Linked DNA regions of Homo sapiens. The protein of the gene in region 3 purifies or fractionates together with the protein of the main gene of each other region. This does not show direct contact. Each region holds a gene or a part of one and is shown on either strand. Other genes may lie near its edges.

Evidence for each region.
Region 1: the proteins of DCAF8 (region 3) and ACAD11 purify together in Homo sapiens (co-immunoprecipitation; 3 studies listed by BioGRID and IntAct, with this or other methods). This does not show direct contact.
Region 2: the proteins of DCAF8 (region 3) and AMPD2 purify together in Homo sapiens (co-immunoprecipitation; 3 studies listed by BioGRID and IntAct, with this or other methods). This does not show direct contact.
Region 4: the proteins of DCAF8 (region 3) and ARHGEF26 purify together in Homo sapiens (affinity purification with mass spectrometry; 2 studies listed by BioGRID and IntAct, with this or other methods). This does not show direct contact.

What each region holds. Positions count from the first base shown.
Region 1 is NC_000003.12:132,649,791-132,656,812, reverse strand, and holds part of ACAD11 (acyl-CoA dehydrogenase family member 11), read left to right. Parts: intron 1-2,142; exon of another isoform or gene 2,143-2,383; intron 2,384-7,022. UniProt on the Homo sapiens protein: Acyl-CoA dehydrogenase, that exhibits maximal activity towards saturated C22-CoA.
Region 2 is NC_000001.11:109,615,171-109,622,852, reverse strand, and holds the start of AMPD2 (AMP deaminase 2), read right to left. Parts: upstream 3,017-7,682; 5' UTR 2,585-3,016; coding exon of another isoform or gene 2,575-2,584; intron 1,940-2,574; 5' UTR 1,746-1,939; coding exon of another isoform or gene 1,678-1,745; coding exon 1,587-1,677; intron 1-1,586. UniProt on the Homo sapiens protein: AMP deaminase plays a critical role in energy metabolism. Catalyzes the deamination of AMP to IMP and plays an important role in the purine nucleotide cycle.
Region 3 is NC_000001.11:160,252,537-160,259,558, forward strand, and holds part of DCAF8 (DDB1- and CUL4-associated factor 8), read right to left. Parts: intron 1-7,022. UniProt on the Homo sapiens protein: May function as a substrate receptor for CUL4-DDB1 E3 ubiquitin-protein ligase complex.
Region 4 is NC_000003.12:154,116,537-154,124,389, reverse strand, and holds the start of ARHGEF26 (rho guanine nucleotide exchange factor 26), read right to left. Parts: upstream 3,001-7,853; 5' UTR 2,871-3,000; intron 2,449-2,870; 5' UTR 2,398-2,448; coding exon 1,315-2,397; intron 1-1,314. UniProt on the Homo sapiens protein: Activates RhoG GTPase by promoting the exchange of GDP by GTP. Required for the formation of membrane ruffles during macropinocytosis. Required for the formation of cup-like structures during trans-endothelial migration of leukocytes.

The DNA.
Region 1 (7,022 bases), on a different chromosome or scaffold from region 3:
CTTTTAAAAAATCTGACAATAGACTGGGTGCAGTGGCTCATGCCTGTAATCCCAGCACTTTGGGAGGCTGAAGCAGGTGGATCACCAGAGGTCGAGTTCGAGACCAGCCTGGCCAACATGGTGAAACCCCGTCTCTACTAAAAATACGAAATTAGCTGGGTGTGGTGGTGGGTACCTGTAAATCCCAGCTACTCGGGAGGCTGAGGCAGGAGAATTGCTTGAACCTGGGAGGCAGAGGCTTTAGTGAGCTGAGATCACAGCACTGCACTCCAGTCTGGGTGAGTCAGAGGCAGACTCCGTCTCAAAAAAAAAAAAAATCTGACAATATCAAGCATCAGGATATGGGGCAACAGGGACTCATATAGGGGTGTGAATTAGTATAGCTGCTATTGAAAAATAACTCAACATGATCTTGTAAAAATGAAGTTGGGAAGATACACATGACCTATGACCTAGCAGTTCTACTCATAGATACATACTCCTGAGACTTTTCTTGTACTACAGTATAAGGGGACAATCTACAAAGATGTTCATTGTACTGTTTGTAATAGCAAAAATCCAGGAAACAACACAATGTCTATAGATACAGAATGGATGAATAAATTGCAGTATATTCACATAATGGAGTAGCATACAACAGTGAAAATGATTCAGCTACAGCTGTACATAACACAGAATGAAAAACGTGAAGAAATTAACAGTATATTATATACAGAGATAAACTTCAAGGGAATGATAAATATAAAATTCAGAATGGTAGTCACTCAAGGGGAAGGACATACAGGGTTTCAAAGACAGTAATTTTCTCCGGGTAGTGAAAATGGTGTTTGTGGCATTACTATTCCTCATGCCTTACCAATTTCATAAATACTCTTTTTATCTGCAAGATTTACTTTTAAAATTTGCAAAAATTAAATCTTATTGGAAAGATAAAATATTTAGAATTAATCAATAATGAAAGTATTATATAGCTTGATACAACAAAACTTGTGATTTGCAGCTGAGTGCCTAATATGTATCTGGCACTGTATCAACCACTGAGGATGTAACAATAATCTTGCCTCCCTGGAACTTCCATTGTATTTGTAGAAGACAGACAGGAAAATCAGCTTCTGAACTTTACAATGTAGAAGTTGATATGTAACATGGAGGAAAAGAGAATAGGAAATGTTTGGGTGTGGGGCAGGAAGATTTCCTCGAGCACACGGCATTCAGCAAAGACTTGAAGGGGGATGAAAATGTGAGCCATGTAAATATCCAGGAAAAGAGTGTTCCAGACAGAGGGGACTGCTAATGCAAAGGCCCTGGAAGGGATGTGTGCCCAGTGTGTTGAGGAAACACAGCCCAAATGCCTGAAGTAGTGTAAGCAAGGGCAACAGGGACCCTGTCAGGCAATAAAGAGACTTTGGCTTTTACTTTGAATTGAGATGGAGAGAGACTTAAAACATGCTTGAGCAGAGGAGGGAAGTAATCTTTAAACAAACAAACAAACAACAACAACAAAAAAAACAGAATCTCTGCTTCTTGTGTTGAGAGTTGACTGAAGGGGCCAAGGGCAGAAGCAAGGACACCAATGTATTACAGTGTTCCAGCAGGGAGATATCAGTGGCATAGACCAGAGTGGGAGTGTAGAATGGGTAAGAAGTGGTCATAGTGTAAGTATATAGTCACATGCTGCATAATGACGTTTTGGTCAATGACGGGCTGCATATACGGCAGTGGTCCCATTAGATTATAATACTGTGTTTTTACTGTACCTTTTCTATGTTTAAATGTGTTTAGATACACAAATGCTTATCATTTTGTTACAATTAATTGCCTGCAGTATTCAGTACAGTCACATGCTGCACAGGTTTATAGCCTAGGAGCAGCAGGCTGTACCACAGAGCTCAGGTGTGTCCTATCGGGTTCAAATCAGCCTATTTATGCTAACTCCAACCAGCTGAGAAGTTTCACAACGAATCAGTGCCAATTAAATGCTTAGGAATTCACGATTTATTGTGTGGCTTCTACACAACAATCATGTAACTCTATCCAACACACATAGGCATTAATAGAGAAGGGAAACACAGCAAGTATTCTGGGAGACCAGCACACTGACTGAGAAAACCAGGTTTGGTTTTCCTCAGAATGCCCACTGACCTGGTGGTGGGTAGCTGCTCTTTTCCCAGAGGGCTTACCACAGCCAAAGGAAAGGAGGCCTCAGAGTTCTCATGGGCAGAGATTCTGCAGGCATCTCAGCCATGATTGGCTTTTACGGCTCTCCACAGACATCTCCATGGCCATTATCTTCAGCTGACTTTTGGCTTTACTTTCTTGTCAGGTGTCAGGGATGCCTGGCCACAGCAGATGCTATCTTATCACCTCAGTCCACCACACATATGCTTACTACTCTGAGTGGTCAGTGATTTCACTGTAAGCTGAGTCACTTGTCATAAGTGACTCCATTATGAGACATTTATGATCATAAAACATAATTATATATCAGTGCATAATAGGCTATACCATCTAGGTTTGTGTAAGTGCACTCTAGGATGTTTACACGTGACAAAAATCACTTAACAACATATTTTCCAGAACACATCCCTGTCATTAAGCAATGCATGACTGTATTTTGAAGGGTTTACTAACTGATTAAATGTGGGCTAGGAAAGGAAGAGACGAAGATTATTTCATTTCTGCCTTGGTAACTGAAAGAATAGGGTTATTGTGAACTGAAATGTAGGTGACTATAGAAAAGCAGATTTGAGGGGGAAATTTGAGGAACTCAGTTTTGGAGTGTTAAGTTTCAAGATGCCTTTTAGACATCCAAGTAGATATGTATAGTAAGCAGTTGGTTATGTCTTGAGGTCGGGGCAGAGATCTGGACTAGACATATAAATTTGAGAGCCATCGACAAAAAGAAGATATTTAAAGACATAAGATCGAAGGTCTTACTTAGAAAATAGTTCACATAAAAAGGAGGTTTGGAGACTGAGTCCAAGGCACCCCAATATTAAGAAGTTAGCAAATTAAGAGAAACCTACAAAGGAGTCTTAGAAGAAGTGGCCAAAGAGGTGGGGGAAAACCATGGTTTGTATTAGTGATCTTGAAAAAGTAGTATTAATGGAAAGAAGGGAATGAAAGCTTGATTGAAATGGGTTTAAGAAGATAGGAGGAGGACGTGTAATCTCTTGAGGAGTTTTTCTACGAAAGGAAATAGAAATGTTTTAAGTAGGGGGGAAGTGAGGTCAAGAGAAAGCTTTTTAAAAAATAACATCATATTTGTATGCTGATGACAGTAATCTAGAAGAGAAAATTTTGTGTAGGAGAGAGGCCTGGAAAGAAGTCCTTAAGAAGGCAGGACTCTAATATGCAAGAGAAGGGGTTGCCCTTAGATAGAAATGTGCACGTCCTTCTGCAGACTTTGGAGGGAAGACAGAATATATGTGTACAGATTATTGTATGCAGTAGATACAGTAGTGTAAGCTTGTGGAAGTTCTCATCTGATTGCTCCTATTTGCTCGTTGAAATAGGAACCTAGGTAATTAATTAGCTGAGAATGAAGATGGAGAAGAAAGTGTTTGAGGTTTGAGGAGAGAGAATTATGAAACAGCCATCCAAGAGAATGGGAGAATAAATGAGCTAAGGAAATATGATTGCCAGATGTGGTTCACTTTGAGGTTTGCTGAGGTCATGAATTTGAAGCAAGAATAGATATTTCAGTAGATATTACTAATGCTTTGTCCAGATCCTCTTGGATCCCTTTCTAGTGTTGCTGTACATGTCCTGCCTTTGTTGGTTTTTGCTTCCAATAAACAGCATCTATGCCTCTTTTTTTGGTAAACTGCCCTCAGGCTATTGGAGCACCCTTTGCTCTTACTGTTGTAGTACCTGAGGTGGACCTTAACCAATAGTGATTCAGAAGTATGAAATTTTCATTATCCTTGCTTCAGAGACATGTTTTGAACTTTGACACGGCAGAGTTCCCCCATTACCTTTACCCCCACCTACACACTGGTGAGATCAGGCTGAAGCTACCCTCTAAGGGACTTTGTCTTAGATCACACCTTTGCTTAGCTTTCTCCCCTTTCTTGACCTGCTTCCCCAAATTTCTTATTAGTTCCCCAAACATTTCCTTAATAAGTCACTTGTATATAATTTTTTTTCTCATGATCTGTTTATTGGGAACCTAACCTAAAACAGTAATTATGACTGTATGTGTCTTTCTTCAGCTATGGCCAGTTATATCAGTGTAAGCAAAAAAAAAATGGATTTAACATGGATGGGAGTTTTGCCAAGCAAACACCATGAAGTGAGGAAAGGGCAAGTGAAGTATACTGAAGGTGTATTCAAGGTAGTGGTTATATGATTTGCTATCAAATTTAACCTAGTTAAGGAAAGATTTATTAGTCTGTTCTCATATTGCTAATAAAGACATACCCGAGACTGGGTAATTTATAAAGGAAAGAGGTTTAATGGACTCACAGTTCCACATGGCTGGGGAGTCCTCACAATCATGGCAGAAGACAAAGGAAAAGCAAAGGGATGTCTTACATGAAGTCAGGCAAGAGAGAATGTGTACAGGGGAACTCTCCATTATAAAACCATCAGATCTCATGAGACTTATTCACCATCATGAGAACAGCACAGGAAAGACCCACTGCCATTATTCAATTACCTCCTACCAGGTCTCACCCATGATACATGGGAATTGGGAATTATGGGAGCTACAATTCAAGATAAGATTTGGGTGGGGACACAGCCAAACCATATCATTCCACCCCTGACCCTTCCCAAACGTCATGTCCTCATATTTTAAAATGAATCATGCCTTCTGACAGTCCCCCAAAGTCTTATTTCAGCATTAACTCAAAAGTCCACCGTCCAAAGTCTCATCTGAGACAAGGTAAGTCCCTTCTGCCTATGAGCCTGTAAAATCAAAAGCAAGCTAGTTACTTCCTAGATACAATGGGGGTACAGGCATTAGGTAAATATACCTGTTCCAAATGAGAGAAATTGTCCAAAATAAAAGGGGCTACAGGCCCCATGCAAGTCCAAAATCCAGTGGGACAGTCTTAAAGTTCTAAAATGATATCCTTTGACTCCATGTTCACATCCAGGTCACAGTGATGCAAGAGGTGGGCTCCCACAGTCTTGGGCAAAGGATATGGTCGGGGGATATGAGGTGAATGGCAGTATGATCAATGGATGGTAGGTCAAGTATTGATTGAAGGATTGTTGGAATTGAGGCACTAGCAGGAGTGAGTGGAAAGGTAGGAGGTTAGAGGTAGAAATGTTTAGAAACTAGGATTATTCAGTGCTTTTACTGTTGATATTGCTAAAGTGTAGGGTGTAACTCCTAGAATTACTGGCTGAGATAGTGTCAAGGAAAATATCACTGGTGGAGAAAATTCAAGGAACTGATGGGCCTAAATGTTAAAAGGGACATCTGTGTAGATTTTGAAATCAGTAATTAAGACAGGAGTAGTGTTAATGAGAGTAATAGTGAATTATGCCAAGATCCTTAAGAAATGAGGAGAAATGATCTGAGAGTTAGTAGGTGACTGCAAGAAAAAGGGGTAGAGGGTGGCAGAGTCTCATGGCCTGAGATTCAAAGCTGAGGGAAGAATTTACACAGGAGGGAGAGCAAAGAGTCTGGAAGTAGCAATGAGTTTCAGGAAGGATACAGACTCCATCCAGGCTTACTAGAAGACTGATGTGGGAAAAACATCTACCACTTAAGAAGCCTACAAAGGAAACAGGATCCTCATGGAATATTCAGGTTTTAGTTAGAGCAAGGAGGTGAAGGGTCTATTCAGAGAAGATATTGAAGCTGTATGGAATTGTGAAAGACTGTGAGTTCCAGGGGCACAGTGGAAGGATATCAGGAGTTGAGGGGGTGGAGAAGATGTGGGAGAAAATAGGGAATGTGCAGAGCCTTATGGGAATTACAATGCAGTAAACAAGTATAAAAGGGGAATTTGGGACTTCTGGTATTGATGATATAAAGAGGGATAAAGAACACAATGAAACCAGTTCCGGTGGTCTCAAGGTAGTAGTGCTGTCAGTGATAGGAAATGGGAAGTTGTAGGTATGTATTGGGGCTGGGGAGGGACAGTCTTACACTAAGTTAAGTAGTCTGGACTCACTGTTTTTCTTATTTTTTTAGTGATGCCAACTTTAAAAGCCTTTGTCCTCTATCATGAATTGTACTTTCTACCTATTTATCATGTGGATAAAGTGCAACTGTATTTCCTTACCCTGTGTATATTCAGATATTCAAAATGTCTAATAATATATGAAATAGCAGCCCAAGTATGATTTTTTAAAAAAACTGTCACTAAACTGACTTCCTACAAATCAGAGTAGGATTTCATGACTGTGTGTTCATGTTCAAACTTCATGTTGAGTTTTGGTTGCCTTATTCTGTTTCTGTAGTCATGGTTCCAGAAGACACACCTCTAGAGGATGGGCAACCACTTCTAGGGAAGTCCCTAGCAAAGCACCTAGCATGGTGCTAGCTCTGTTACACTGTGATAACGGCAGGGTTTTTACCCTCTCCAGCTCTTTTGGCTGATGTTAAATTCTTCCTTCTCAGTAATGAGATTCTTGACCAGTCATTGATGACTCCATTGCACTTGTCAGGAGTCTTGTGTTTGACTTCATCTTTGATTCTGCTTTGCCGTCTCTCATTTTTCACTGTGGCCTATTGAATACATAGGATCTGAGCAACTTCTTACAAGAAACTCTGTCTCTTTGTTTCTCGTTTTCCAGCTTTGTACTTCTATGCCTCTTGGACCAAATACTCAGTGTTTCCATGGGCAAACACTGGGTCATTTGTCTTTTAATCTTCTTTTTTCCTGATCTCTTATCAACAGCAAACACATTTGAGATGCTGTTGGCATCAATATAAAAAGTTATTTAAATTTGTGGAAATCCAAAGGGTTTAGGAGGAATGCCCGTGAGTTCAAATTTGCCGGGCTGGTTGTTATCCTTCATCATTGCTCACTCAATTTTGTAAACCTTAATGAGCAAACCTG
Region 2 (7,682 bases), about 51 Mb from region 3:
TCCTTCTAGGGGAGGCCGACCACAGACCTCCATGGCTGGTTCATATTGGGTCAGCAGGAGTTGAGTCAAAGGCTCAAATCTCAACCCCCTCTCCTAGCAGGGGGGTCTCAGGCTCCACAGCAATCCTGGGGTGAGCAGGACAGATTCCAACAGCCAGTGCCATCCCCCCAGCCTGCCAGACCACTCTCCAGGGCTGCCGCAGGCTCACTGAAGGTGGCACACGGGCAGTAACCGCTACGTTCTCAGAGGCCAGGCCTAGAAGACTCAGCTGCCTACTGGTCCTTTCTCTAGGGGTCAGCACCACACACATACACCCACACTTACGGAGAAGTCAAGCAAAAGCCAGAGTGGGCTGCTCCAGAGCCACTCCCACCAACTCTGAGATTCTGAGCACCCCATCTCCCCTCTCGACCAGGAGCCCCTCACACACTGCCACGACTGCCTCAGTAGGCACAGGGGTGTCCACGGCTTTGACCCCACAAGTATCAGATGCTCTTACCATCTGACCACCGAAGGGTCTCCAGCTCTGGGCTAGATCCGTATCAGTTGCCCTATTGCTGAACCAAACAGGGCCAGGAAGGGCCCCACCCAGGGGACACCCTTTCTGGATGGCACAGACCTGGGCACAGAGAACACCCTCAGGACAGTAGAGACCTTGCACCAGTCATCTTCAATGAAACAAAAAAATATAGGAGGTTGATACTTGGGCTATAGCTACAGACAGCTGCAAGGGTGGGGGCAGTCGGCATGATCTGGTCATCAAAGTCAGGGTGGGTCTTTCCTTAGCCACAAGGCCTGGGAGCAGACAGCAGGCAGATATCCCTCTGCAAGCACAGAGCCAGGCAGCCAAGCCCTCACTGAGACAGGCACTGCCGCACCTCACTGCCTGCTCCAAATGATGCAGAGATGCTTACTAGAGTGAGAGACGAACCAAAGGGTGCAGAAGCACACACAGTGCGGGCAGCAGCCCCAGCCTGAACCCTGCACGGACCTGACCAAGGACACCCCATACTCCTAAGGAGGCTCACAATATAGACCAGGAATGAGCAAATAGCAAACGATAGATACAGTCAAGCCCCCAGTTGTGGGATGCCAGCCAGCAATGGTTGTGCCCAGATGTCAGACCCCCAGTGAGGGGGATCTAGATGTGGGGTCCTAAAAAGTGGAACTAGCCACAGAACAGCCTAAGCCTGCCTGGTAAAGGCACAGGCGCCAGTCAGAGTGGCCAGTCCACAAAACAGTCAGTCCCACACACCCCCGCTCCATTCACACATGCTTCACACGCAGTCTTAGCACATGCACACGCTGACACGTGTGCATACACACCTCTTGCTGCACCCACACCATGCCCACTCCTTGTGACAGAGGACAGCATCCCTGGCACAGATATCTCAGATCCACCCCCCGCCCCCCACCACCCCTCACCCCACCTTCCAAGCCGGCTGTCCCTGGGACTGAGGTTGAGGGGCACCACCACAGAGAGGATGCCGGAGGAGGTGGCCCCCTCTGAGGGGACCAGCACCTTGGGCGAGAGGTGGCAAGACAGAGCCCAGCATCTATCCTGAGGCCAGGAAGCACACACTCACCTGGAGCTGCAGTGGAGGCCTGCAGGCTGGCCCGCTTCTTAAAGGGATATTTGGCCTTGGGCTTGCCAGAGCCAGATGGATAGGATGCCATGGCTGGGACCACGGCGGCGACAGCGGGGGAGTCTGAGCGGCACCGGCTGGGGCCTGGCTCTGCCACATCCAACCCCTTCCTCCGCCCCGCCCCCAGCGGGAGTGACTGATGCAGGAAGCAGCGGCTCCGCAGGCGGAAGAGGCCCTGGCCACGATTTCTCATGTTGTCTAGGCAACCTCGGGGAGTGGGGCCTCCATCTCTGCCCCTTATCCCTCCCCTGCCTCCTCAGTCCCAGGAGTGACGTGACTGATGGTGGCTGGGCCTGGCGGGGGGCGGGGAGGGGGTGGGTAGAAAAGAAGATGGGGAAGGGCCAGCCCCCAGCTCTCCACTAACCCACCAAGAGCCCTCACCCCATCATGCCAGGGCTCCCGGGCAAAGAAGCCAAAGTCCAGGCTAGCTGGTCCTTCCAGCTAGCCTGGAAGAAAAAAGAATAACAAACAGGAATTCAGCAGCGAGCGAGTCCAAGCTCAAACACAGTCCTCCCGGGGCAGGGCAGGCATACTCCGTGAAAACCCAGCACCCACTTTCCTTCCACATCTGACCCTCAGCTCCCGGGGTAGCCCAGCTCTGGGAGGAGGGGGAAGAACCGAGAATCCCAGCCCAGGAGGGAGGGGCCTGTCCCGGGAAAATTCCACCGTCGCCAAATAGCTACCTCCCAGGAAGGCAGGAAGGCCAGGAGACCCCCTTGTCTGGGGGTCTGGGACAGAGACCCTAGCCTCTTTGGATTTTTCCTCTGTCTCTGCACACTCTGGCTCTGCTCCCCAGGCCCTCCTGGGAGGAGCTGACCGCCTTCCCTAGGTCCTGCTGCTGTGCTGTGACTCCCACCCTCTTGTCACTCTGGCCACAGCACTTCTCTGTCCCAGAGACCCTCCCTCCAACACACGTACACACACTCACCTGAGGCCATGATGCCCGAGTTCCGAGGGGAGGCTGCCCACGAGAAGTCTGTACAGCAGAAAGCCCGGGTCCTGAGGGACGGCAGGGGGATCGGGCCACAGACCCCAGCCAAGTCACTCCAAGGGCCCCTGCCCTGGCACTGAGATGGGGAAAGTAAGGCAGTCTTTCAAAATTGCCAGCTGGCCGGAGGTGGACTCCCGCAGACCTCGGCAGCCGGACTGGCCTCAAGGCGACCCCGGTGTCGCGACCACCCAACCCTGCAATCGAGAGGCTGGTAGGCCACGTGCTCCCAAGGGAGCGGGACCCGAAACTCGTCCAGATTTCTCTCAACACTCCCTGGGCATTCAGGGTCGGACTCCCGCGGCCGGACTGTGGGGGAGTCACGCAACAGGTGAGACCCCACCAAAATCTCGCCGGCTCCGCGCCAGGCTCTGCGGCCCTTGGCCCCGCCCCCGCCTGGCCCCGCCTCCGCCTGCCGACCCCGCCTCGCCATTTTTTTCTCTTCCTGGGCGCCACGTGGGCAGCCACCACACCGCGGTAGGGCTGGCCTGAGCCGACCCTGGGTCTTGGGCCAGTTCCGTGCGTCAGCTTCCTCATCAGTAAGATGGGGTAATGACAGTACCTCACTCAAAGGGGTTACTGTGAAGATTAAACGTAAAGTCCCTTTACACAGTGCCTGGCACGAAGTGAGGGCCCAGTGAAAGGTAGCTGTTATCATTGTCCCAGGATTCATTTTAAGCAGAAGTCCTGCCCCTGCAATCTCACTTGGTCGTCTGTTTTCTTCCGGCCGGCGTAGGTAGGAGGCTGTGCCCTGCAATTCTGGCTCCCCTTCCCACATTTCTGTATTTGGTGGTTAAGAGCTTTAACTCTAGCCAGAATGTCTGGGTTCAAATCCAGATTTCACCTACTTCCTGACTGATACTGGGCAAGTTACCTAACTTCTCTGTGCTTCTATTTCGTCTGTAAAATGAGTGTAAGAGTACCTGCTTTATATGGTGGTTAAGATAAATGAGTTAATATAAGTTAACTGCTTAGAACTGTGCCTGGCCTGTAGTTAGTACTCAGTATTCATGTATTACCATTGCTTTAGCCTTGGCCTTGGTTCTCTATTGACACTCACAGGTTGATTCACTTGCAGCCGTTCTGGGGTCTATCCAACAAGCATCCCCACTGCCAAGGGGTAGATAATCCGACCTAAAGGGAACTTGTGGAGGGAAGTCCCTAAGACTTCACTGAATATAATTAAATGCATTAGCAGGAATTAATCTCTTCCCTATTTTCCCTCTTGTGGGAGGCCTTTGCCCCCCACACCCAGTTGTTCTAATGCTGTTTGTCTGGCTCCTCCCAGTTCTTACCACTCCCACAGCAGAGATCCTTCCCAAACTCTGCCTCCCTCTTCTCTCCCCACGCTGGATTCTGGACCCTGAACCCTTTTCTCCACCTGCATCTGGTGCCACTTCCATTGATCCCTGGCTACTGTTCCCTGAACAAACTTAAAAAAAACTTGGCCTCTTCACCTCACACAGAATCCATAAAACTAAAAAGAGAACAGAGATAACCAGGTTTACCTAATCAAAATAGCAAAGACTAAAAAACAAAAAACCAAAAAATAAACGCTAATGCAGGTTGGCAAGGGTATAGTTAGTGAGATGGGAGACACACACACACGTACATGTGCACAAACACATTACTGGTGGCCTTGAACACTGATATAATCTTTCTGAAAGCCATCTGGTAATATAGAATCAAAATTTTCAAAAAGGTTCTTATTATTTGACCCAGTAATCAACTTTCTGGAAGTTGTTTTTCTAAAAAGAGCTGCCAGAAAAATATGTATGCAAAAAGTTGTTCAGCACCACAATGTGTATTGCATAGAAAAGTTAGATACTTTAAAGGTCGAACAATAGGGGAATGTTTATGTAATATTCATACCATGAAATACAGCCATTAAAAATTGTTCTTGGAGAAATGTTTAATGATGTGGAAATGTTTACAATATAAAGTTAGGTAAAAGAATGGATGCAAAACACTATACACAGTATGGTCCTACTTATGTGATATACATGGGTAGAAAAGAAACACACCAACAAGTTTACCAATGATTATCTGTAGTGATGGAATTATGGGTTATATTTATTTTCTTTATATTTATTTGCATTTTAGAAATTATAATACATACCCATAACTTTTATAATCAAGGGGATAGAAATCAACAAAAATCTGTAAAAATCTGTAATTGCCTCCACAGTCCCCCCAACCCAGCCTTCCCGGGGTCTTAACCCCAGACTTAAACTATTCTGTTTACATTTATGGCCCACTGAATTGGTCTTGGGGCGCTTAGGGATTTTGAGGCTGATGGACTCTCAAGAATGAATAAAATGAATCTCAAAAATCAAGCACCATGTAACTACATAAATGTCATGTATCTTCTGATAAGATGCAAATGTTGACATAGTTTTAAAGATAGTATCTTGCATTGGGCCAGGTCTCTTGAGCATCCTGCTTAATGCAGACCTACCTACCTCAGCAGCCAATAGGTGGCAATCCTTGCCCTCCACCCAGCCCAGGCAAACCAGTTCATTAGTCCCTTTATGCTAGTCCCCTAGTCCCATCTGCAACACACCCTTCACTCTACAACCCTCCCCTATTTCCAGGTCATCTGGTGTATTGTTGCTGCTAGGAAGTCGGCCCTGATTATAGTTAGGCATCAATCCCTCCACCCACTCCATACCAGCAAGAATCTCAGTGAGGTTTCATTGTCTACGCAGAACAGAGCTTGGGAAATAAAGGAGTGAGTCATCCTATGGCCTGGGCTTTTTTCACACTGAGGCCTTAACATTCATTGCCTTTGAGCCTCTGAGATATTCCCTAGCTCCAAACACAGCTTCCTCCCCTCCTAGCCTGTTCCCCACATGGCTCCTTAACTGGCCCTCCCGGAATCCCAGCTCCCTAAAGATGGTGCACTCCTGTTTCTCTGAAGAAGTGCTTTTCTTTGCTTCTGGACTTCAGCTCACTTGTGATGTCCGCCTCCCTAGCTAGGCCAGAACAATCTTCACAGATACTAAACTTGGGAGAGAATATCTGCAGCTCCAAAAAGGTCCTTGGCCAAGGCAATTTCCCAAACCATACCTTATGCCTAGGCCCTTCTAGAAACAAGCTGTTCAGCTCTGGTTTCTCAGCTTCTCCCAGCAGCCAGCTCCCTCTCCCCCTCACCTCAGTCACCCAGCATTGTGTTTATAGCACCATACAGCTGTTTCCATCTATACTTGTTTATAAGACCCCAGTGGATTTTAGTCAAACCCCTTGCCATTGAAGGCGCTTCACTGGCTGGCTCCAATTTCCCTTTCTTGTCTTCATCTTCACCTCCCAACCCTCCACTCCATGCACCTTTCACTCCAGTCCAGTCACATCAAAGTCCCAGTCTTCTCTGAGCACACCTTGTACTTTGTGCCTCTACCTCTTTTTTCATGCTCTTTCCTTTCCCCAAAATGCGTATCTCCCACTTCCACTGTTATTCTGCTTCTCTGTGGAAAGTCTATTCATTTCACAATCACCCTTTTCTTTCTTCCGCTGTAGAACTTTGTCAGTCTGACAGTCAGATGTGTGTTTGATTGCCTTTCCTACCAGGGGTGAATGCTAGGTCTTAAACAGCTCTGAATTTCCCAGCACTACTGCAGTATCCCTTTAACTCATTTGTTTTTCTGTGAATTTCCCCCACCTCTGCCTATGGACTGGAAGGTCCTGAAGGTAGTTCCTCATCCTTCATGTCCTCCCACTCCATCTGGGACAAGTCTTTACCCACAATTCACTTAAGACAAGGCTTACCACGGATGTCAGACAGATCCCTTAACTCAGGAAACATGCCCAAATCACTAAGAAACAGTGATTTACTTTTCATTCAAAATGATAATGGTTATAAAGGGCTGTGAATCAAAACACCTGAGCTCTGGCTTGGCTTCTGATACCAACTTGCTTATTAATGTGAGGATCACTTTTCTGTACTTCAGTTCACTCACCTCCAAAATGGAACTAGCACTACATACCTTATTTACTTCATCAGGAAACTGTTCGTAAATGTGATCATAAAGTGGGACAGCCACAGGAAAGGCACAGGAACTGACGATAGAGGCAGAGGCAGGAGGTCACAGACATCAGGATGATGTATGCACAGTAATGGATCTGTACTCTCAGGCCAGGCGAGGGCTAGCAGTTCCCTCTCTCAGCTTAGCAGTGAGAAAGGGGAACTTCCATCCAGTAAGTTAGGGAACAAAGCAGAAGCAGCACAGAAGTTTGCAGAGGTAGTAGCAGAAAAAGGAACAAGCCCACTTTCCCTGTGTGTGAAACAACTTAGTGGTTCCTTTAACAAGGGCTGCTGTTATAGAGTTCATGCATTTGTCCATGCTTTCTCTCTCTGGCTACTTATGTGGAAGTAATAGAAAGAAGGATCACCGGTTTGTCTGTTTACTAGGCCATATAACTTTGTTTTTTTGTTTTTGAAACAGAGTCTCACTCTGTCACCCAGGTTGGAGTGCAGTGGCGCAATCTCGGCTCACTGCAACCTCCACCTCCCGGGTTCAAGCGATTCTCATGCCTCTATCTCCCAAGTAGCTGGGTGCATGCCACCATGCTGGGCTTTTTCTTTTCTTTTCTTTTCTTTTTTTTTTTTTTTTCTGAGACGGAATCTTGCTCTGTTGCCCAGGCTGGAGTGCAGTGCCTCCCGGGTTCAAGTGATTCTCCTGCCTCAGCCTCCCAAGTAGCTGGGATTACAGGTGCCTGCCACCATGCCTGGCTAATTTTTGTATTTTTTTTAAGTAGAGACAGGGTTTCACCATGTTGACCAGGCTGTCTCGAACTCCTGACCTCAGATGATCTGCCCATTTTGGCCTCCCAAAGTGTTGGAATTACAGGCGTGAGCCACCATGCCCGGCCTAATTTTTGTATTTTTAGTGGATACGGGATTTCACCATGTTGGCCAGGAACTCCTGACCTCAGGTCATCCACCCACCTCAGCCTCCCAAAGTGCTGGGATTACAGGCATGCGCCACTATGCCCAGCTGACTTTAAATGAGTTACTTAACTCTCAAGTCTCAGTTAATCTAGTCTGTAAA
Region 3 (7,022 bases):
GATTAGTTAAGAAGTATAATAAAAGCTTTGTTGTTGGGGGGCAGGCAGTCAGGCATCAGAGAAATTATTTTGTCAAAGATAATAAGATGGACTGAAATGAAGGAAAAGGAAAGAGAAACAAGTTTAAAAGCTATTATAGTTGCCAAGATAAGAAGTAATGAGGGGCTGTCTTGGGTTGATGGCAAAAGGAATTAAAAAGGGATCAACATGAGAATCGTTGTAAAGGTAGATAATGTTTAGCTCAATAAGCAGTTACAAAGCTGAGTTAAGAAGGACAAGTTCTTAGTCTGGCGCCCAGAGAAAATCAAGTGACACAAATGAGAAGCTGGCAGGTGGGATGAGAAATTATTCTGAATAAATTTAAAATCCAAGCCGACATGTTAGGAAGGTACTGACGAACAAATTTAAGTTTGGAACTTAAATAAAGTAAGGCCAGAGATACAGACTTGTGAATTATCTGTACAGAGAAACTTCAAAATCAAACACCTTGTAAATCATATCTCACTAAAACAAACAATTAGTTACCTAAGAAGGCTCTGGGAGAGGATGTTCAAGGGAAGAATCTTGAGGAATACCTACCCTTAGAGAAGAGAAAGGAGAGCAGAGAGAAAAATTGAGAAGAACGAATAATCAAAATTAAACCTCTGGAAGTCAAGAATAAAAAGGTTTCAAGGTGAGGATAGGCTGGGCGCAGTGACTCATGCCTGTAATCCCAGCACTTTGGGAGGCTGAGGCTGGAGGATCGCTTGAGTCCAGGAATTTGAGACCAACCTGGGCAACATCAGGAGACCCTGTCTCTAGAAAAAATTTAAAAATTAGGCTGCGCACAGTGGCTGACGTCTAAGTGACGCTGGTAATCCCAGCACTTTGGGAGGCTGAGGCGGGTGGATCACCTGAGGTCAGGAGTTTGAGACAAGCCTGGCCAACATGGTGAAACCCTGTCTCTACTAAAAATACAAAAATTAGCCACACGCGGTGGCATACGCCTGTGATTCCAGCTACTCAGGAGGCTGAGGCAGGAGAATCACTTGAACCTGGGAGGCAAAGGTTGCAGTGAGCCGAGATCGCACCATTGCACTCCAGCCTGTGCGACAGGGTGAGACTCCATCTCAAAAAAAAAAAAAAAAAAAAAAAAAAAAAATAGCAGGGTGTGGTGGTGTACACCTGTAGTCCCAGCTACTTGGGAGGCTGAAGTGGGAGGATCACTGGAGTCCCAGAGGTCGAGATTGCAGTGAACTGTGATGGGGTCACTGCACTCCAGCCTGGGTGACAGAGCAAGTCCCTGTCTCAGAAAAACAAACAAAAAAACCAAGAAGGTAAGGAGGATAGTCCATGCTTCCAAAAAAATACAGAGAACAGTATACTGTCAAAAGGCTGTAAGAGTCAGAACAGCTTTTCCCCTGGAATTATCTCAGAGATTGAATGGAATGCTGATTTTCTCTCCAGTAAAGAATCATAAAACACTAGGATTCAGCTATCTCTTAAATCTATAAAAATTATTTCCTGGGATGGGTGCGTGGCTCATGCCTGTAATCCCAACACTTTGGGAGGCCGAGGCAGGCGGATCATGAGGTCAGGAGTTTGAGACCAGCCTGGCCAACATGGTGAAGCTCCGTCTCTACTAAAAATACAAAAATAAGCTAGGTATGGTGGTGCATGCCTGTAATCCCAGCTACTGGGGAGACTGAGGCAGAAGAATCGCATGAAACTGGAAGGCAGAGGTTGCAATGAGCCAAGATTGTGCCACTGCACTCCAACCTGGGCCAAAGAACGAAACTCTGTCTCAAAAAAAAAAAAAAATTGTTTTCTTAAAAACTCATTAGCTTACCAATATAGCATAACTATGTCTAAACAATAAAAAAAGTTTGTATTCCTACTGTCATTTGAATAATTTATATACATATGTTTATAAGAAATATTTAATTCTACCTTTCAGCTTCATCTCTTGGCTTTGAAAAGCCCTGGTTTTTTTTTTGGCCAGGTACCATGGCTCACGCCTGTAATCCCCACACTTTAGGAGGCCGGGCCGGGTGGATCACGAGGTCAAGAGATCAAGACCATCTTGGCCAACATGGTAAAACCCCATTTCTACTAAAAATACAAAAATTAGCTGGGCATGGTGGCATGCGCCTGTAGTCTTAGCTACTCGGAGGCTGAGGCAGGAGGACTGCTTGAACCCGAGAGGGGAAGGTTTCAGTGAGCCAAGTCATGCCACTGCACTACAGCCTGGCGACAAAGCAAGACTCCATCTAAAAAAAAAAGAAAAAAGAAAAGTCCTATTTTTAAAGACAGCATGTGTTATGAAAGAAAGAAAAGGGCTTTGGTGTCAAACAGACCTGGGTTTGAATTCTACCTCTACCACCTGCTTTTGAGTTTTTCTTTTGTAAAATGGGATAATATTACCACCCTGCAGGAATTTAGAGGATTAAAAATAATGTATGCTAAGAGCCTGTTTGTACATAGTAGCCATTTATATTATTTTTCTAGTTTCCCATCTCTATACCAGACTACATTTCCTAGAAAATCCTGGACCTCTTTACCACTCAGCAATGATTCTCCAAACATCGTATATAATATAGGACACAGTCCCAAGTCTATGAAATCTGCTTACCCTTTCTGGCGTTTTAAAGAATTCAGAGAGCTCCGTTAATATCTTCTTTCAAGTATTCATGTTCTACGAACTGCAGTAAGACAATCTACCCAGGAACCCACAATATAAGCCTCCCTAAGTTTTTCTCCCTCTTTTAATTTTTAAAATAGATTTTTTTACTATTATTATCGTAGAGACGGAGTCTCACTATCTTGCCGCGTGGTCTCAAACTCCTGAGCTCAAGTAATCCTCCTACCTTGGCCTCCCAAAGTGCTGGGATTATAGGTATGTACCACCACACCTGGCCTCTTCTCCCTCTTGAAGGTTCTGAGGATACCCAAGATGGAAGACTGCAAAGCAATCACCATGGATAATGATGAGGATTCAAACTATGAATAAGGAACTTTGTTCCTTCTTTGAATTAATGCCTTCTCTCCCTATTGGTAACATAAAATGCCCAGTGTTTATAGTTTACTGGCTTTAATTATTGTTTTTTTATTTTTATTTTTTTGAGACAGGGTCTCACTCTGTCACCCAGGCTGGAGTACACTGGTGTGATATTGGGTCACTGCAACCTCTGCCTTCTGGGTTCAAGCAATTCTCCCGCCTCAGCCTCCCAAGTAGCTGGGACTACAGGTGCATGCCACTGCAGCTGGCTAATTTTTATATTTTTAGTAGACACAGGGTTTTGCTATGTTGGCTAGGCTGGTCTCAAACTCCTGACCTCAGGTGATCCGCCCGTCTCAGCCTCCCAAAATGCTGGGATTACAGATGTAAGCCACCGTGCATGGCCTCTGGCTTTAATTCTAATAACAGTATTTCAGACTATGTCAGGAATGCACTCTAACCCTTAAGTGTTAATTTCCAGCAGCAGAACTAAGCAAACTTTTTTTTTTTTTTTTTTTTTTTTTTTTAAGAGACAAGGTCTTGCTATGTTGCCAGCCTGAAACTCCTGGGCTCAAGCAGTCCTCCCAACTCAGCCCCCCGAGTAGTTGGGATTACAGGTACATGCCACTGCACCTGGCTAAGAGAACTTTCTATAAAAACATCCAGGACCATTTATCTCAGTTTAACTAATTCCTAGGGAAATCTACTTTTCATTTTGTTTCCATCTCAATTTACATTTACATCAGAAGTCTGTTGCCATTAACAGTTTTTGCCATTTATATTTCAAATTTTTCTTAAACTGGAGAGGATTTAAGATGAAAAAATGATGCTCCCAAGGTACAACTTACAATAAAACATTAAAGAGAGGCTTAAAACCTCAAGAAGTGCCTTCCTACAGGTTAGGTTAGAAGAAAGGGTCTAATGTTGGATTCTAAGTAAGGTTAACAAAACATACCTGGTAATGTGGCAATCATTAAAGTACACCAGAGGAATACAGTAACTTGACTACCATTAGAGGTAAACCCTATAGTAGCTTTCCAGATGGCTAAGAAAAAGCCAGGAAGAAAAAAAAAAATGGCACGTGAGGCAAATATGTATGCTTCACTTTAGAACTTGGCCAGACTTCCTTAAACAGTAACTTCAGAGGATAAACAGCAAATATCTAATCTAAAATGTTTGCATTGACCCAATCCACTAGACATACTATTAATACATTTCATTAATAAGATGACATCTTTGTCATATTAATTACTCCCCAATGCCCTATTGGCAACCTCAAGGCAGCCTCCGTTCATTAATTTATCTGTATCATAACACATTCCTGGGGTTAGATGGTACTTGAGAAATCTGGCTTCTGGCCCAGGAACTATGTCCTACAGAGGTAGAGATAAAAAAAAACTGCTGCAAAGAAGTGACTAATTCATAAAATTCATCACTCGCTAATTTTTGAAAAGCTTTCAAAGACTTTCTACTCACTCCAAGAGCAGAATGACTAAATCAATAAAGAGCAAGTAGCCTCCTTTTCTGACTGATTTTAACAGCAATGATGTTTCTTGGCTACATTTGTAAAAATAAAAGATGAAGTTTTTAATATTACTATAAAGCTAATCTAAAACTCACTGGCTTTTGGCTCTAAAATGAAAATATACAAAGTCACTACCCCATGCCTATTGCTGATTCAATTAATTCAGTTGCCTGTGTTCCAAATAGGTGAGGGTAAACAGCAGATTATCTTAGCTCACTGATAATCTGCTTTAAAAAAAAAAAAAGCTAATTCAATCTCAGAGACTTAAAAACTAACTCTAACACCAATGTTATGCAATAAAAAGTCTGGTTTGGATACCGTTATTTCTCTTTTATAATCTGGATATTTCCTAGACATGTTTAGAATAAACTTTTATACAGTAGAAATAATGGAGTAATGAATCTATCTACTGAAAGCATTTTAATAGTCACTTTATGATTTTAAAAGCCTATTACTCCCCTGATAGAATACAAGACTTAGAGCACGAAACTCAAGATCCCAGTCTTTCACAACAGGGTGCGCTTCTATACAATGTCTCCTACTAGAATCTGTTTGCTTTTAAAATGCCAGTATTGTTTTAAACTGGCAACAAAGAGGCTGCTTTCTTTCAGCTCTCTGTAGACAAGCTTCTGTCTTAGGTTGGTCCTACTCCACACTAAGGACCATGGCACTGGAACTGATTCTTTTTTTTGAGACTAGGTCTCGCTCTGTTGCCCATACTAAACTGCAGAGGCGCAATCTCAGCGCACTGCAGTGATCACTGCGCAATCTCAGCTCTACCTCCTGGACTCAAACAATCCTCCCACCTCAGCCTCCCAAGGAGATGGGACTGCAAGTACTTGCCCCATGCTTGGCTTTTTTTTTAAACTTTTTGTAGAGACAAGGTCTCAATATTGCCTAGGCTGGACTTGAACAACTAGGATCAAGTGATCCTCCCACCTTGGCCTCCCAAAAGTGCTGGGATTACAGCCATGAGCCAGCCGCACTCAGCCTGGCAGATTCTTATACATTTAATTGACTGCATTTAGCAGGGTGCAGTGGCTCACGCCTGTAATCCCAGCACTCTGGGAGGCTGAGGCAGGAGGATTGCTTGAGCCCAGGGGTTTGAAACCAGCCTGGGCAATATGGTGAAACCTCATCTTTACAAAAAATACAAAAATTAGCCAGGTACGGTGGCGTGCACCTGTAGTCCCAGCTACTCGAGAGGCTGAGATGGGAGAATCACCTAAGCCCAAGAGGTCGAGGTTGCAGTGAGCCATGATAGTGCCACTGCACTCTAGGTGACAGAGTGAGATCCTATTTCAAAAATAAATAAATAGACTGCACTTTAAGAGGTTGGTGGTGGGAACTAAAAGGTCACAAGCATTCTTAGCCTCCCACTCTAATCATCCTAGGAAATACTACCTAATAAGATGTCACAATTCTTAAGTAAACACCTAAAACCCTGGAAATATAAAAATATCTTCAAGCTGGGTGCTGCGGCTATGCCTGTAATCCCAGCACTTTGGGAGGCCAAGATGGGAGCATCACTTGAGCCGGGCAAGTAAGACCTCATCTCTTTAAAAAAACAAACAAACAAAAAAAAAACAACCAAAAATTAGCTAGGTATGGTGATATGCCCCTGCGGTCCCAGCTACTCAGCTGAGGTGGGAAGATCACTTGAGCCCAGGAGTTTGAGACCAGCCTAGGCAACAAAGTGAGACCCTATCTCTACAAAAATAAAAAAAACTTTAGAAAGATAAAAAGTTTACAGTGTGGTCCACAGACTAGAAATACTGATTTACTACATATAGATGTCACCTGGACATTCTTACCCAGCACATAAGGAAATAAACAGTCCAAGTTATCCCTCTTTCAAAGTATTTCCTTTTCTCCTCCCATCCTTTCCTTCACCCGACATGGATCTTCAGAGTTCATAAAAACACAAATGATACAAATGCAATCTCAACCCACCTCACCACCACCCTGGAGAATCCTTACCTTACAATGGAGAATTTAGACCCTGGATGATGGTAATGAAAAGTTCATCAAACCTAAAATGGTCACTGGTCTGAATGACACAGCTGCTTTCATTGTGATATTATCAGTACTTAATTTTCATGTGCCCTTGCCAAAAAGATACGAAAGAAAAGCCAACAAAAGGTTTAAAACTCTTCATCTGTGCTGTCATATTATTAAGACGGTCCAGCTGTGGAGCTGAAAAAAGAACTCTTTGGCCGGGCATGGTGGTTCACACCTGTAATCCTAGCACTTTGGGAGGCTGAGGCGGGCAGATCACAAGGTCAGGAGATTGAGACCACCCTGGCCAACATGGTGAAACCCCTCCTCTACTAAAAATACAAAAATTAGCTGGGCATGGTGGCGCATGCCTGTAATCCCAGCTACTCGGGAGGTTGAGGCAGGAGAATCGCTTGAACCAGGGAGTCGGAGGTTGCAGTGGGCTGAGATCGCGCCACAGCACCCCAGCCTGGTGACAGAGCAAGACTCGTCAAAAAACAAACAAACAAACAAAAAAAACCT
Region 4 (7,853 bases), on a different chromosome or scaffold from region 3:
AAAAAAAAAAAAAAAAAGGAAAAGCAAACTATGTATGAATGAGCCAAATAGAAAATACAGCTATTTTAAGTAAAAATACTTTTTTTTAGTCATTACATTAATTAGATTTCCAAGAGCGCACAGAAGCTGAGCCCTGGAGGAGTTCACTCATTTGATCACTACAATTCACTGAAACAATGAAATAAAATGTACAAGATCCCCCACACCCTGTCAAAACAGATTGAGAATCCTCAAATAACTAGCAGGTCAGCTCATTTTACAACTCGTGATTCACCATCACTGTTAAATTGAACTTTGCTATACTTGCAGAGTTGGAAAAAACACATAAAATGTTATGTAATTTATTTTCTTTAAGACCACGGGCTCTAAAATAAAACAGGCTTGCTTGTGTTTTGCATATGTGCCATTTATATAGACTGGTTCCAGTGCTCTGATTAACCAAGAAAAAATGTGGCTGCCAAAAAGAATCTGCCTTATTGCTGAAACCTGTGTTGTTTCTGTGGAAGGAAGCACACACTCCAAAATACCCCTCTTCAGTTTTCCCTGTTTCTTTATGTCATATTTGACAATATTTTAATAAGTGCAGCTAATGGGACAATATAGGGGAGCAATACCACACAGTGTCCACCCTAACCTTAAGTTTTCAGCTGCCAATCTGTTACATGCACTCAAGGATGAATGGGCATACAACGGGAATAAAACACAACCAAAGGCCACGGTGACAAAAACAAGCAACAAAAAAGATGACAAAATATTTATGTCTTTTGTGATCCTGGCAACTGATTTTCAAATTCACATTCTACCTGAATGACATCAAGTGCGTAGTAACCACTCAAAATTCAGTAAGTAAAAGCAAAAAATAATCAACAGGCTCAAACAGGAATCAGTATTTTTCTGAATCAGCTGTGATAACAGCTATCATTGACTGAAACCTCTAAGCAAACTCCAGACAACTTGACTGCAGAGTGCGGTTCTGAACATGCTCCTCCCCCTTTCAGCTATCTCTTTTAAAAGTGGTAAAGACTCACTCAGCCAATAATCTGCCATATTTCACTCTTGTCCCCCCCAATTCTGCCTGAGCTTAGAAATTTAAAAGTGATGAATTTCACTTCTTCCCACAAAGTTGCACTAAACTCGGCTGTGCCTGCCAGCATCAAAGTGGCCAAGAGCTGGATGTACACTAGCAATCAAGAGCAAAACACAGAATTAAAACGGAATGACTTCTTCGGGTTTCCTCTACGCTCCTCCTCCCCACTCCCAACACATTTACTTTCCGCTTAGTGAATGGCGTGCCACACTCCTGCCCACTTTTACCTTTATCCTTCCCAGACTGGAAAACTTCTCCTTGTCTTCCATCACCACTTTCAGAACAGGCTGGGACATTCTGTTCTTCTTCTTCGAGCTGGTAGGACTGTCAAAATCAAAGCCACTGACCACTGCCCTGCGATAAGACGTGGACCGCAAGCCTCTCCGCAGAGACCCTGGGCTATCCACGTCGTTATCGACCTCACTCTCCTCCCCTGCGTGACCCAGGGGTCCTCCTAGGCCCTCCACCATGCTGCGCACCTTGAGGAGTCTCTTGTGGGGCTCCACATTTTGATTGTTGGATTTACTTATTTTAATTTCCGAGGCCAGACTCTTCGGAATGATCTGCTGCTTCCCCACTTTGAGGGCGGCGGGGCTGTTTGTACTCAAAACCACGGAAGGATTCTCGAGGAGCTCGTTCTCCTGGGAGGGCAGCCTTTGGAGGGGGAGTTTTTGTTCCGAAGAACTTTTCTGGGGCCCAGGAAAGAGCCCCCGTTCGGGGTCCTTTGCCTTCCGGCCGGACTGCGAACCTGACCCAGGAGAGTCGTTATTAGCGGCAAGGCCATTTGCAGTGGGCGAAGGCACCGGGCTGGCAGTCAACCCAGTAAGGTCCTCCTCGGGGGTGCAGGGGGCGGGCGCGTTAGGAGTCCGCGGGGGGCGCAGAACCGGCGGCGGCGGCGGCGCAGGCAAGGTCACCGCGCCATTTGCTGGGGATTTCGGGGAGCCGCCAGGCACCGCTTTGGGGAGCTTGGGTGACTTGGGCCGTCGAAGTCGAGGAGAGGCAGCCCTGTACTCCGGGGATGCCGTCCCACCATTGGCCACCGCTCTCCGCTGGGCGCCCAGAAGCAGGGGGCTCCTATGTACCGTCCTGCTGTCCGAGGCGGTGGGCACCTGGGCGGGAATCTGCGCTGCGAGGAGCGTCCCTCCGTCCTCCACCGGGAAATCCGTAATTAGTAACCCGTTGGGGCTCTGGTAGGACTGGGGCCTCGGCTTGCTCCGGCCCAGAACCTGGTGGGGCTGAGGAATCGACCGCCTCCGCCACAAAGGGGTTATGCTGTTGCTAGAAAAATCCACCTCGCTCTCGCCGTCCATAGCCGGGCCTCGAAGTCAGCGCCGGGAGGAGCAACACCGAGTTAGTCTTGCCTAAAGAGGAAAGAAGTTAGGAAACTGTGCCTCTGGACAACCGGGGACGCCTGGCCGACTCGCGTGCTCCCAGACCGGCGGTCCCCCTGCTGCTGCGCAGGACACGACTGCACCGCACTTACCCGCCCTTTCTCGGGCAAAAACTGCACCACTGCGGTGCGCGGTTCCCGGCAGAAATCTGGGCTGCCGCCCAGGCGGATTAATCCAATCACCTCCGCGTCCCTCCCGCGCCAAAAGACCACCCGCAGCAAATGAGCCCGCCACCCATTCACTGAGTGCAAGCCGAGGCACAAGAAACTTGGGACGAGTTCAGCTTTCTTGGGAAACTCGCCGCGGGACGCTCCCTTCTGTCGCCATCCAGCCTCCCGCCCTCATCATGGGTACCCTCGCGCTCCAGGTGCGCGGCTCCCACGCAAATTTACCTTCTGGGGCTTGCAATGTCCGGGGCCGAGGAGCACCCACTACCCCGTGGGTGGCCCGGGTCCGGGACCGAAGCGCAGCCGCGAGAGCTTAGGAGAGCGCTGCCGCCGACCGCGGCGCCGGCGCCGGCCCGCCCCCACGCCTGACTACGCCCCCACACTTGGCCCCGCCCCCGTTTCGGCCCCGCCCAGATCCGCCTCCATCGCAGCCAGAAGCAAGAAGCTGTCTTCCCGCCCCCGCGTGCCTACAATCAGCCCCAGTCTCCCTGGGAAACCGACGAGCGCACCTGAGCTGGGTTCTGAGCTCCAGCGTTTTGGGGCTAGAAGTTGCGGACTAGTAGCTGAGGCGGCACGGGAGTGTAGGCGCGCGGGGTCGTTGCCGGGGGCACAGAGTGAGAACAAGCAAGGGAGCCCTGCTGAATTGCAGCTTAGGAAGCCCTGAATCCTGGAGGTGCGTTGAAACCGAGAACGCGCGGCGTAGTAGACTTTGTGAGATGCGTGGGCAGTAGCGCAGAGTTCTAACGCAGAGTCATGCCCTCTCAGCATTCAGGTGGTCTTAAATCAGATGGGCTCGTCCCAGTGCTGAAAATGCATTATAATATAAACAGATAGATGGGCTTGTTTGTGCCTAGAGTCTTTCCGTAGGAAAGACTGGCAGCTCTGAAGAGGGAAACTGGGTGGCTAGGAAACCGGAGGGAGGGAGAGTTTTCATATAATTATTTTTGGTCCTTGTATGCTTTGCATCTTGAAACCTATCTGTGAAAAATAAGCTCAATTTACACTACAAAAAAAGTATTGGTTTCCAACAGTACATAGAATAAAACTCAAAATCCTTAGCATGGCTTACAAGACACTTCACTACTGCCCTACTTCTTCAGCCTAGTCTTTCCTCCATCACTTTCTTCATTATTTTTTTGGCCACACTCAAAGTTTGACAGCCTCATAACCTTCCCTTTCGTTCCTTCTTGACCCGACTTGTCACTGCGTCAGAAAGGCCTTCCCTGTCCCCTCCTTAATTATACCATTGCCCCGTTTATTTTCCCAGCCACTTGTTCTCTTCTATTTTTGCACTTATAAAATTTTGTATATATATATATTTATGTGTTTATGTTTATTGTCTTTTGTCTTTACACAGTAATTTGCATGAGGGCAGGGGTCATGTTTTTTTTTCTTCTCCGTATTTCCGGCACATGGTGGGCACTTAATATTTATTTAATGAGTGAGAGAATGAATGACAGGAATGAAGTGAAAACAGTGACCATTCCTTCCAAAGTGCTTGGTTGTCAAATAGTAGAAAGATGGCTGTGTCTTGGCCAGGCTCCTGCTGTGTGACAATAATGAGGCAAACTTGAGAAGACAAATAATTTTAGACCATAAGAGCTGTATAATTGATTCTATTAGCAAGACAAATGGGCCCTTCTCCAAGTTCTCTTTCTGCATTCATGCATTCAGCAGGGATGCAGTGAGCATCCACTGTGTGCAAGTTATGCTGCCTGTTTTTGCCCTAGATTGAATGCAATGGCCAAAAATATTAAGATGTGATCTCTGGGTGGTGAGATGAAGGATAGTATGTTTCATGCTGCTTTATATTTTTCTATACTTAACGAAATATCCTGGACAATGAAGATATATTACTTTGATCTGAGACATTTTCATAAACAAAGAAAAAAAGAAACGGCATCGAAAAATGTATAAGAAACTTTTTTTTTTTTAGACGGAGTTTTGCTCTTGTTGCCCAGGCTGGAGTCCAATGATGCGATCTCGGCTCACCGCAACCTCCGCCTTCAGGGTTCAAGCAATTCTCCTGCCTCAGCCTCCCGAGTAGCTGGGATTACAGGCATGTACCACCACGCGCGGCTAATTTTGTATTTTTAGTAGAGACAGGGTTTCTCCATGTTGGTCAGGGTGGTCTCGAACTCCCAATTTCAGGTGATCCACCCACCTTGGCCTCCCAAAGTGCTGGGAATTGCAGGTGTGAGCCACCGCTCCTGGCCTAAGAAAATTTTTAAGAAAGAAATTTTCCACATTGGGTGGAAGACATGGCTGATTACATACTCACATGTAGGTACATAGACTTTTTTTTTAATATAAGGTGTTTTCTATACCAACATGTATTGCTGTTATATTGGGGAAATATAATAAATTAATTTCAGAAGTGGTTACCGACTGACAAATGGAGTATTCACCTAATTCAAAATGCAACCTGTGACCTATGTTAAGAAGCTGTAAAAGGTGATGTGAGAAGGTGGCTTTTCTTGAAATTATGTTGCTTCTACAAACAAGTATAACCAATATTTGTGACGACTTCATAGGATCTTCTTACCTCATTTCCAACAGACAACAAAATACCTACCAAAACAACAACAAAACACCAAGCTCTGGTCCTTCACTGAGGGAAGTTTACAAACTCACAGACCTAGTGCCTATTCAATTTATTGTTATCTATTCAAATCTAACCTATCTTCAATTATATGTTCCACTCAAAAGAAAGGAAAAGAGCTGCTAATAAAACTATGACAATATGTTATGTCATATCGAATTTTTACTTTATACTTAGTGCTTTTAGACACTTATACATAGATTTGCTTAGTACTGTGTGTATGTAGGAAAGGAAAATATAAGCAAAATGAATTTACCAAAGTCCCGAACATTGAGCCTGATTCTTCTGAATACCTTTTCATGAAAAGCATTCATGTGTGTTTTTCCACACAATATTGTTGATAGTGCACCATTTCTTAAAAGGATGTTCCAATCTTGTTTCTGGGATTTGCCTCCTAGACAATGACACTCATTCTGCAGTTGTGATGCTGGCACTATCCCATTTGACTAAACACATAGTTTTCTTGTTCAACTGAATTGTATGTCACTACAAGCTATGCAGCTTCTCTATTAATGGCCAGGAGAAAGTTTCTCACAAATGGTAGTTTCATGCCTTAACCATAGTCCTGCATGATACATGAATTGGTTATATCAACCTCTCTTTGCTTTAGAATTTCTTTCACCTAATCTGTCATATCTGGTAATTTCTCCTGCCTTCAACTATGTTTCTTGGCATATGGCTTTGACACAACAGGACTAAATTTCATAGAATTTAGTAGAAATGATAACAATTCATTTATGCCCATGTTCAAAAATAGGCAATGCCAACTATATCATCACTATCACCTGGCCACTGGATGTTTATTTGATAGTAAGACACATCCCAGTTTCAAAGAAATTAAAATGTGGTACCAAATTATTCTTAAAATTGAAGAAATACAGTATGTCAAACTATTTGTAATGATATTTTCCGCTGGTATATTCCAATGGTATATTGAACTATTAGAATATTCAATGGTACAACGCAAGATATATATGGCTACATTTACTAAACAAATTCACATTGGTCACAAATTTTGTGTCCCAAGCACAATAATTTGGCTAATTTTTAAATGCAAATTGTTAGCTAGTCTTATTACAATATATGTCCAATTTTCCAGTATTTCCCATCCCGTGTACCTTTTGTTTATTTATACATTCAACAACTATTTATTGGGTGCATTCAAGTGCCAAGCATTAAGACAAACATTCCTGAACCTTACAGTTTGGCTCATGAAACATGACTGAAACATTAAAATAAAAGACACCCAAACTGTGTAAGATGCATAGTAAGCTCTCTGTTCTATGGAAACCTTTGTGAAGGAGTCTGGATAAAACTGGCCCAGAAGGGTAGATAAAGTATTGCAAGGTGGAGAAGCGGACAATGATGTCACAGAAAGATTTCCCAGGATAAGCAAAAACATGGAGGGATGGCTGGAGAACTGATATTCATTAAGTGCCAACTGTATTTTAAGCTTTGTTGTTTGTTACACATAACTTAATCTCACATTAGTTCTGAGCCCACTTAAATATGAAGCTGAAGCCCAAAAAGCTCTTCTCATACTGTTGATAATTGGTTGAGTCAGAATCCTAAACTTTTTCTTTACAATACTCCAGAGCCCATGCATCAAAACATACAAGAAACTAAGCTCACCAAAACACAGTTTGCTTTTAGAAGTTGTGGGATGTTAATTTGGCTGAATATGGTGAGAATAGAATGTGGTATGCAACAGAGACTGAGGGATTGAGATTTTACCTGAATGACAACTAACTACTCTGATATGATTTGGCAGTTTGGCTCTGTGTCCCCATCCAAATCTCATCTCAAATTGTAATCCCCATGTGTTCATGGAGGGAGGTGATTGGGTCATGGGGGCAGTTTCCTCCATGCTGTTCTCATGATAGTGAGTGAGTTCTCATGAGATCTGATGGTTTTATAAGCGTCTAGCATTTCCCCTGCTTGCACTTCTCTCTCTTGCCACCATGTGAAGAAGGTTCTTGCCTCCTCTTCACTTTCTGCCATGAGCGTAAGTTTCCCGATGCTTCCCCAGCCATATGGAACTGTGAGTCAATTGAGCCTCTTTCCTTTACAAATTACCTAGTCTCAGGTAGTATCTTTATAGCAGTGTGAAAATGGACTAATACATACTCCTTGAAGAGATTTAAACTTTGCCATCTTCTAAAAAATGAATATGATGACACCAGTGTCAGAAATAAAAAACAAAACATTGACAGATTTGACAATTTAAACATTTTAACCTTTGTGCATTAAGAAAAGCCACATAAACCCATACATTTTGAGGGAAATCTTCTCTTAGAAGGAAATTAGAGAAAAATATTTAAATATATATAAAATATAAATATAAATAGGTTTGTGTATGATATAGCCATTTAACACTTTGTCATATATATTTAAATATTTATATGTTGTATATTAAATATATATATTATATATTGAAATATATAAATATATATGACAAAGTGTTAAGTGGCTGTATCATACAATCAATAAGAATAAGATAACGAAAGTTGTAAAATGAACAGAGTAAGAATAAGCATTTTGGAGAAGACATGAATGTCCACTATACATCAAAATATACTCAATCTCAATAATAAAAACAAAATTTA